Linked DNA regions of Homo sapiens: region 1 is linked to region 2. Evidence: fine-mapped expression QTL. Tissue or cell type: whole blood. Region 2 holds a variant in brackets; the other region holds the start of a gene. All regions are shown on one strand. Distances are between the middles of the regions. Region 1 holds the start of STK4 (serine/threonine kinase 4). Region 2 overlaps STK4 (serine/threonine kinase 4).

Region 1 (4,394 bases), 21 kb after region 2:
AGCCACTTCAGAACCCAGTCCTGCAATGCTCTTCTCTTGTGCTTTTAATACATTTTTTAAAATCCAAAAGGTACAGGAATGAGCATGCCAAGAAACTTTAGTCCTTTGCTCAAGATTATGTAAGACAAGGCAAAGGGGGAAACAAAACTCAGATTCCTAATCCTCTTTTCAATTAAACCAAGGCCTCGGAGAAAGAAACCAAGAAGAACGAACGAACATAGTTCAGAAAGAAACATAACTAGTGTGCATTCATAATTGGATCACTATGGTACTATAGTAAATATCTGCTAACATACACAGAGACCTGTGAAACAGGGGTACTTTTAGAGAGGCATCAGAGTGAGGCAGTTAAGAGCATGGCCGGGCCCGGTGGCTCACGCCTGTAATCCCACCACTTTGAGAAGCCAAGGTGGGCGGATCACGAGGTCAGGAGATAGAGACCATCCTGGCTAACACGGTGAAACCCCGTCTCTACTAAAACTACAAAAAATTAGCCAGGCGTGGTGGCACGCACCTGTGGTCCCAGTTACACAGGAGGCTGAGGCAGGAGAATCGCTTGAACCCAGAAGGCGGAAGTAGCAGTGAGCCGAGATTGCGCCACTGCACTTCAGACTGGGCGACAGAGTGAGACTCCGTCTCAAAAAAAAAAAAAGAACATGGACTTTGGACCAGACCCCATAGACATTAAAATCCTAGCTCTGTCTCTTACTTGCTATGACTTCTCCCAGCAAATCACTACCCTCTGTATCTCAGTTTTATCATCTGTAAAACAGACATATAGGGATATCTACCACACAGGATTGTTGTGAGGTTCAAATGAGTTCAAATGAGGTTTTTATGGTTCAAAAATGGTCAAATATCAGCAATTTCATATGCTTCAGCAGGACACATGGAAAGCACTTAGAACAGTGCCTGGCACCCGGTAAGTGCAATATGAGTGTAATAATCATTACTATTACAGTCTCAGCACACTACGCTAGGGTGAATCCAAAGCCCATCCCAACCACCTATTTGCCTTCTGCAATGTTTGTGCACCTCAAACATCCCCAAGCTCAAACAACCCCTAAGAGTGCTGCCCAGGCAGTCAATCCCTTCTCTTCACCTCTTGGTTGCCCTGCACTTCCACACCCTGAACACTTCCTTCTTTAGAGCTCATTCTGCTGCAGGAAGTCAGACGTCTCTGTGAAATAGAAGTAACCACACTGAACCTCAGAGAAGCATGACTCCTTCGGTCTCTAGTCCCTACTTTTCTCCAGATGTGGTAGAGTGGCAAAAGACCCGGGATGTCCACAAGGGAAATCCAGGAGTTGAGATTTTCTAGGATCAGCCACCATCCTGATCTTGAACTAAAGCAATTCCAGGTACCACTAGGATTTGGTGCTGATATTCACAAAACAACTGAGGCCTGAAAAGGGCACAGACTGGCAGGGTTCAGTGACCCGGAGTAAAGAAGGAAACACTTCCCAACTACTCTGGACCTCAGTCTCCCCATCTCGAAAATATCCTCTTATTTCCTTACCTACCTCCCAATGTCAGGTTCTGAAGAGCTGAGGAGGATGTGAAGACCATTAGGAAGACACTGAACATCAGTAATAAAAGATGCCATCCTACAGTGGGGACACCACCAACAGCATCCTCTGAAATGCTACCCTCCACCATCCCCTCCCTTGCTAGACCCTCAACCTTTCCTCGCATGCTTTCAGCCTTAGGCGCAAAGCTTTTCCCCTCCACAGATCCCCCCACCGCACCCCTCAAGTGGGACTTCAGACCCTTAGAAAGTCCACCCGGCCTTCCTCTTGGCCAGTTCTCGATCCACCCCCTTAAAGAGATCCCTCACAGATTCTCACCCTGCTTCAGCATTCGCCCCCACCTCCGTGAGTCCCTGCTTGGATAGCGTTCCCCCGAGTGGCCCGGCCTCAGCAGGTACTCTCCCTAACTTGTCCCCACGTTCCTCAGCACAGTCTCACCACAGCGAGTGCTCCCTCTAACCGGTCCCAAGTCTAACCTCCTTAGCAGATGCTCCCCTCAGCCGGACCCTCACCCACCAGACGTCCCCCCCCTCACTCAGCAGGTGCCCCATCGGCTGGGTCGCTTAGCTCCGGGGACTCCCACACAGGTGTATCCCCTCAACCAGTTCCCGCCTTTTCTTCCCCTGACCCCATGCCCGTCCTCTTAGCCAGTGGCCCCTCACCGGCGCGGCGGGTTCCTCAGCTGTACCGTCTCCATGGCGCTGCCAGCAGCCGCCCAGACCCGCTCACTGCTCCATCCTCCCGCGGACCTCCTGAGCCCGCCCCGCAGACCCTCCCACACTTCCGCTTTCCGCCCCTACCGGAAGCGGCGCGCGGCGCGGGAGCGGGGCGGAGCCACGGCCCTGATCACGTGGTTCGGGCGTGAGTCTTGTGGCGCGGTGGGGCGCGGACCCGGAACCGCCAAGTGGTGAAGGCGCCTCCAGGCGGTGCCCGCTGGTCTCTAGAGTGTCAGTGGCGCTGTCTTCCTGCGTTACCGGAGCGCACAAAATACTCGGTCCCCAGGCCGAGAACGCACCTCTACCTGGGTCCTGGGTCCCATTTCACAGACTGAGATGCGTGAAGCGCCTCCTTTAGAAGAGCTGACAATTCTTAGCAAACCAAGTTTTGCGTGATTTTGGGGAGGCGGCGCTGCCCCAGGAACGCCTGGAGGTATTTGTGGTTTTCTGCCGCTTACCTGGTTGAACTCTGGTCCCAACGGGCCCCCTGCACATTTTCTCCTACAATGCATCAACGCGCAAATTGCCCCACTGTCTTTCTTAAAGGCCTCCCCTTTAAGTCAGTTTGCAGACATAAAAATAAGCAACATTAATTAAGCATTTGCCGTGTACTTGTCTTCATATATTATCTCATTTAATCCCCTGTGTCAAGCCGATAAGGTCATCCCCGTTTTTATTTATTTAATGATTTAACACAGTCCCTAAACGTTTTCAGTGCTTTACCTCATTTAATACTCCTAACAACCTAGACGGTATTATTATTATTCCTACTTCATAAGGCCAGAGAGGTGAAGTATCTAGCCCAAGGTCACATAGCTTAGAGTATAGGTTTGGGGATTTAAATCCAGTTTGGTCTGATTTCAGGGCCTGCACCACCAAACTGGACAGCCATGGGTGTGTAACCTCTTTTTGGGCCTGAGAAACAGACCTTTCTCTCCACTCAGAGCTCCGGCTTCAGCTATTGTGCTTCCGAATGCCACTACCATCAGTAAGTATTAGGAAAATGGCAGATTCTACCCAATTGACCCATGGGGAAAGTTATAGGAGAAAACTTAACCAGAGCAACCTCTCACTGTTTTTAATTGCCTTGCTTTTCCCAAGGATATGCCATCTACAGAACTTAACACCTGAGCACCCACCCTTCAGGGCCACCCATGGGCCCAAAACGGGATAAAGGAGCCATTCCCTGACATAGGAGGAAAACATTTGCTGAGAAGCTACTGTGTGCCAGACACAATCTTGGACTTTCACTTAATCCTCAAAACAGCCCTAGGAAGAAGTACCTACCGTTAACAGATAAGAAAGCTGAGACCCACGGTTTACACAGCTAAGGAGAGCAAAGGTTTTAACCCAGGACTGTCCTGACTCCACAACATCAAAGTTGTTGTTTTGTTTTTGGTGTTTTGTAGAAACAGGATCTCCCTATTATTACCCAGGCTGGTCTCAAACTCCTGGGCTGCAGCAGTCCTCCCACCTCGGCCTCCCAGAGTGCTGGGATTACAGGCAAGAGCCACCACACCTGGCTGATGAATAGGAATTGGGTAAACATTTTTGAAAATTAAATACCAAATTACCATTACACAATGCCAAACAGACCTCCTTTGTCCCCTTCCCAGGATTTTTCCAGAAGATGGACTCACATTATGATGGCCCCCTTTTTCCGCAGAGTGTTCCCAATGAAAATTTCTGAAATGATGGGAATGTTCTAAATATGTGCTGTCCGAAATAGTAACCATTAGCCACATATGGCTATTGAGCACTTTAAATGTGGCTAGCATAACTGAAAGGCCACATTTTTATTTAAATTTAAATTTAAATAGCAAACCGTGGCTAATCATAATAATAGCTTAAGAGAGAAATGGTGAGCAGGGTTACTGGGAGAGGTATTTTCCTATAAGCTCTGGATATACAGTTGACCTGGGAACAACAAGGGTTTGAGCTGCATGGGTCCACCAATACAACCCTTGTTTTGTTTTGTTTTGTTTTCAATAAATACAGTCAGCCCTCTCTATCAGAGGGTTCCACATCCACAATGAAACATGGTTGGAAAATACAGTATGGGATGTGAAACCTGTGTATAGGGTGGGCTGACTTTTCGTTTCCATAGGTTCTGCAGGGTCAACTATAGTACATGAGTATACTCACATTT
Region 2 (4,394 bases):
CTTAGGAATGAATTTAACCAAATACATGCAAAACTTGTACACTGCAAATTATAAAACATTGCTAAAAGAATTAAAGAAAATCTAAATAAATGGAAAGACAGCTTATATTCATAGATCGGAAGACAATATTGCCAAAATGGCAGTATTTTCAAGCTGATTTACGATTCAAAATAATGTCTACCAAAATCCCAACGGCCTTTTCTGCAGAAATTGACAAGCTGATCCTAAAATTTATGTGGAAATACAAGGGACCCAGAATAGCCAAAACAATCTTGAAATAGAAGGACAAAGTTGGAACACTCACACTTAACCAACTTCAAAAATTACTTCAAACTTACAGTAATCAAGACAGCACAGAACTGGTGCAAGGACAGACATATAGGTCAATGGAATAGAATTGAAGGCATAGAAATAAACTCATACATTTCAACAAAGAAAAAACAGTCTTTTCAACAAATGTTGGAACAACTACATATCAACATATAAAAGAATGAAATTGGATGCCTATCTCACACCATGAAAACTAACTCAAAACAGATTACAGATCTAAACATAAGAGCTAGAACCATTAAACACTTCAAAGAAATCATAGGAGTAAATCTCCATGACCCTGCATTAGCTAATGATTTCTTAGATGTGACACCAGAAGCACAAGCAACAAAAGAAAAAAGAAACTGGACACGACCAAAATTTAAAAATTTTGTATTTCAAAGGACACCTTCAAGACAACCCACAGAATGAGAGAAAATATTTGCAAATCATGTACATAAGAGACTTATATCTAAAATATATAAAGAACTCTTAATTCAACAATAACAAGGTAAATAACCCAATTAAAAATGGGCAAAAGATTTAAATAGACATTTTCCCAAAGATACCCGAATGTCCAATAAGCAGAAAAAATGACAGTCGACATCACTAGTCATTAGTAAAATGCAAATCAAGACCACAAAGAGATACTGCCTCATACTCACTAGGATGGTTATAATCAAAAACACAAAAAAGAAAATGTTGGCGAGGATGCAGAGAAGTTGGAATTCTCATACATCAGCAGGGAACACAAAATGGTGAGCCACTTTGGAAAACAGTTTGGCAGTTCCTTAAAAAATTAAACACAGAGTTACCATGTGATCCAGCAACTCTGTGTATCACATGAAAACAACGGTTCACATAAAAACCTGTACACAAATTTCACAGTAGCATTATTCCTAACAGCCAAAAAGCAGAAACAATCTAAATATTCAACTAATGAATAAGTAAACAAAATGTGTTACAGCCACAATGGAATATTACTGAGCAATAAAAAGGAATGAAGAATTGATGCATGTTACAACATGGATGAACTCAAAAACATTATGTTAAACAAAAGAAGCCAGAAACAAAAGGGCACATTATGTATGATTCTATTTATATGAAATATTCAGAATATGCAAATCTATAGTGACAGAAAGTAGATTAGTGGTTGTCAAGGGCTGGGAAGAGAATGGGGACTAACAGCTAAAGGGTACAGTTTATTTTGAGGATGATGAAAATGTTCTGGAATTAGACATTGGCAATAGCTGCACAATTTTGTGAATATACTAAACACTGAATTGTACATATTAAAAGGGGAGAAAAATTCTGCCAAGGCAGGCATTATAGCAATAAGAACACTGTAAGTCATTATTGGGTAATCAATCAATTACTAAAATTAGTAAATGGAATGGATACATATATATATATATATATATATATATATATATATACACACACACATATATATACACACACACATACATACATACACATTTTTTTTTTGAGATGGGGTCTCACTCTGTTGCCCAGGCTGGAGTGCAGAGTGCAATGGCGCAATCTCCCAGGTTCAGCCTCCCAAGTAGCTGAGATTACAGGCGTGCGCTACCATGTCCGGCTAATGTTTGTATTTTTAGTGGAGATGGGGTTTCACCATGTTGGCCAGGCTGGTCTCGAACTCCTAACCTCAAGTGATCCTCCCACCTTAGCCTCCCAAAGCGCTGGGATTACAGGCATAAGCCACTGCACCCGGCCAATATTATATTATTTTATAGACCATCAGAGGGT[G/A]TATTTTTTCAATTTGGTTTCCTGACTAAGACTGTGGTTTAGGTAATATTGTCTGGTACTGTTTACTTTTGTGTTAACAACAAAACCTTTTGGAGAGCCCACAAATCATGATACTGAATAAGGTTCTGATTTATTTTAAACATCAAAGCAATTTCTGTGCTGTTACAATACCTGAGGCTCCCTAACATGTCCCAGGCAGACTTATAATAAAAAAAAAATAATAAAAAAAAAACCGTACATAACACCAGTTCTAAACACACACTATATATATTCATTCTACCACCCAAGAAAACCACTTGATATGTAATATTTTTGCAAATTTTAGAGTATACCTGCCTAAAACTATTTCTATTTTTCTATATATACTTTCATATATACTTATGTAGAATCAAATAATTCTAGACTTCCTATTTTGAAAACAAGTTTTTTTTTTTCTTTTTTCACTTCCATGCACTAGTTAGGCAGGAGAAGAATCAAGAGACTGTATCCTGGACTCAAACGAACAGAGTGTTTTCAGTACAGTAACTGCCAAGTACTACCTGGAAGTTGAATGAGATGATGTTATGTCTTAGTCAAGGAAAGCAGTTTGGACTTAATTTTTCTTCCTCTTAATTTTTCTTCCTTTTATAAATATGTTGATGTAGTGCACTAGAGTAATCTATCATTTCTTGCTTTACTTTTCATCTTTATAAAAGTTGAACAAAGTTAAGCTATGTGACCTGAACCCCAGGAAAAGATCTAAAATAACCCACTAACTAGCTCTTTTGTAACCTATTGGCAGATTCTGTGATTTTTTACTAATACAATTAAGTCAAGTATTATATTTTAAAAATAGGTAAATAAAAGGAACTGCTTCTCAGGACAGAAATGAAAATTATCAATACAAGTAATATTTTTACTTACTGTAAGTTGACCTGCTACCCCAAAATCTGCAAGTTTTGCATGTCCTTCTGTATTTAGCAAAATATTTCCTGCCTTGATATCTCGGTGTATTTTTCTCATAAAATGAAGGTATTCAAGTCCCTTAAGAGTTGATTGTAATATTGTAGCTATTTCATCTTCTGTTAACTGAAAAAAGAATAAGAAGTTCAAATTCTATCAGTTTACATCAGCGCATTAGAAAAAGGAGAAAAAATCAGATCCAAACCTTTCTTTAATATAAACAGATCTTATTCAACCTGTGAACAGCATTTGACTGCTTATACCATAGATACACTGACCACTCCCAAGGCTATATTTCCATACCAGATCTCCCCTCAATCAGATTTATGTATCTCCAACTAGAATACCTAGCCAGCATCATAAGCATAACATGTCAAAATCAAACTCTATGTCTATCACCTTACCCCTCTCCCTCTGATCCTTCCAACCTACTCCACTTCTCCCACAGTCCTCCCTCTCTCAGTAAAAGGAAACTTTATTCTTTCAGTTGCTCTGGTCAAAAACCTTGAAGTCATCCTTGACTTTTCTCTATCTTCAAAACACTGTATATCCAAATACACCCTCTGTAATCACCATGGTCCAAGTCACCATCGTGTCCTGACTGCACTATTCTCATAATCTCCCGACTGGCTTCTTTGCTTCTGCTCTTGACACTCTACAATGTATTTTCCACACAGAAGCTATAATTAAAATGTAAGCCAGAGTCAAAACCTACCAATGTCTTCCTAACCCACTTAAAATAAAAGTCAGTCCTTACCAAGGCTTTACATGATCTGGCTCTCAGCTACCTCTTTAACTTCATCTTTTACCACTTTCTACCTTGCTCAATCTGTTTCAACAAGGGCTTGCTTCCTTGCTGTTCCTCAAACACTCTAAGCACACTCCCCTTTCTGGGACTTTTCAACTGCCTATTCTCTTCATCCTGATGTCTATCCAGTATGCTTCCTCAGTTTGTAATCTGCCCAAATATCACCTCCTCAGAAAATGGAGAGGGCTTTCTTACTCCATTTCTAGCTCATACTCTATTCCCTTAAATTACCTTGTCACTGCAGTATACTACCATCTGACATATTACCCATTATTTATCTATGTATGTGATATCATCCCTGTTAGAAACACAAGCTCCTAAAAATGTCTGATTTGTTTACTTTTGTTTCCCTAATACCAATAAAGCCACCTGGCACACAGTAGGCACTGAAAAAAATATCTGTTGAAAGTGAGAATGCTAGAAACTAGTATAGAATATCTGATCTGGCCAATATAGACTTTCTGCAGACCCAACACCAGTCCTAAACAAACTCAATCTATCAACAAACTGTTACATAGTTCCCCTTCTGACAAACAACTCAGATGTGAAATGGAGTGTGCTCTGG

What was found.
Region 1: it holds the start of STK4, and the variant in region 2 is fine-mapped to the expression of STK4 in whole blood (INTERVAL, PIP above 0.99).

The regions. Positions count from the first base shown.
Region 1 is chr20:44,964,401-44,968,794 of GRCh38, reverse strand. STK4 (serine/threonine kinase 4) reads right to left here and starts at 2,283. Exons shown (of 11, transcript NM_006282.5): 1 at 2,192-2,283. The coding sequence starts at 2,226. STK4-DT (STK4 divergent transcript) reads left to right here and starts at 2,337. Exons shown (of 3, transcript NR_038341.1): 1 at 2,337-2,678; 2 at 3,110-3,233; 3 at 3,347-4,394. RefSeq lists silencers at 399-528, 2,209-2,458 and an enhancer at 989-1,068.
Region 2 is chr20:44,985,885-44,990,278 of GRCh38, reverse strand. STK4 (serine/threonine kinase 4) reads right to left here. Exons shown (of 11, transcript NM_006282.5): 5 at 2,983-3,147. Among named protein-coding and RNA genes, the nearest start is that of STK4, 22 kb to the right of the region's middle. The variant G/A (reference allele first, on the strand shown) is at 2,080.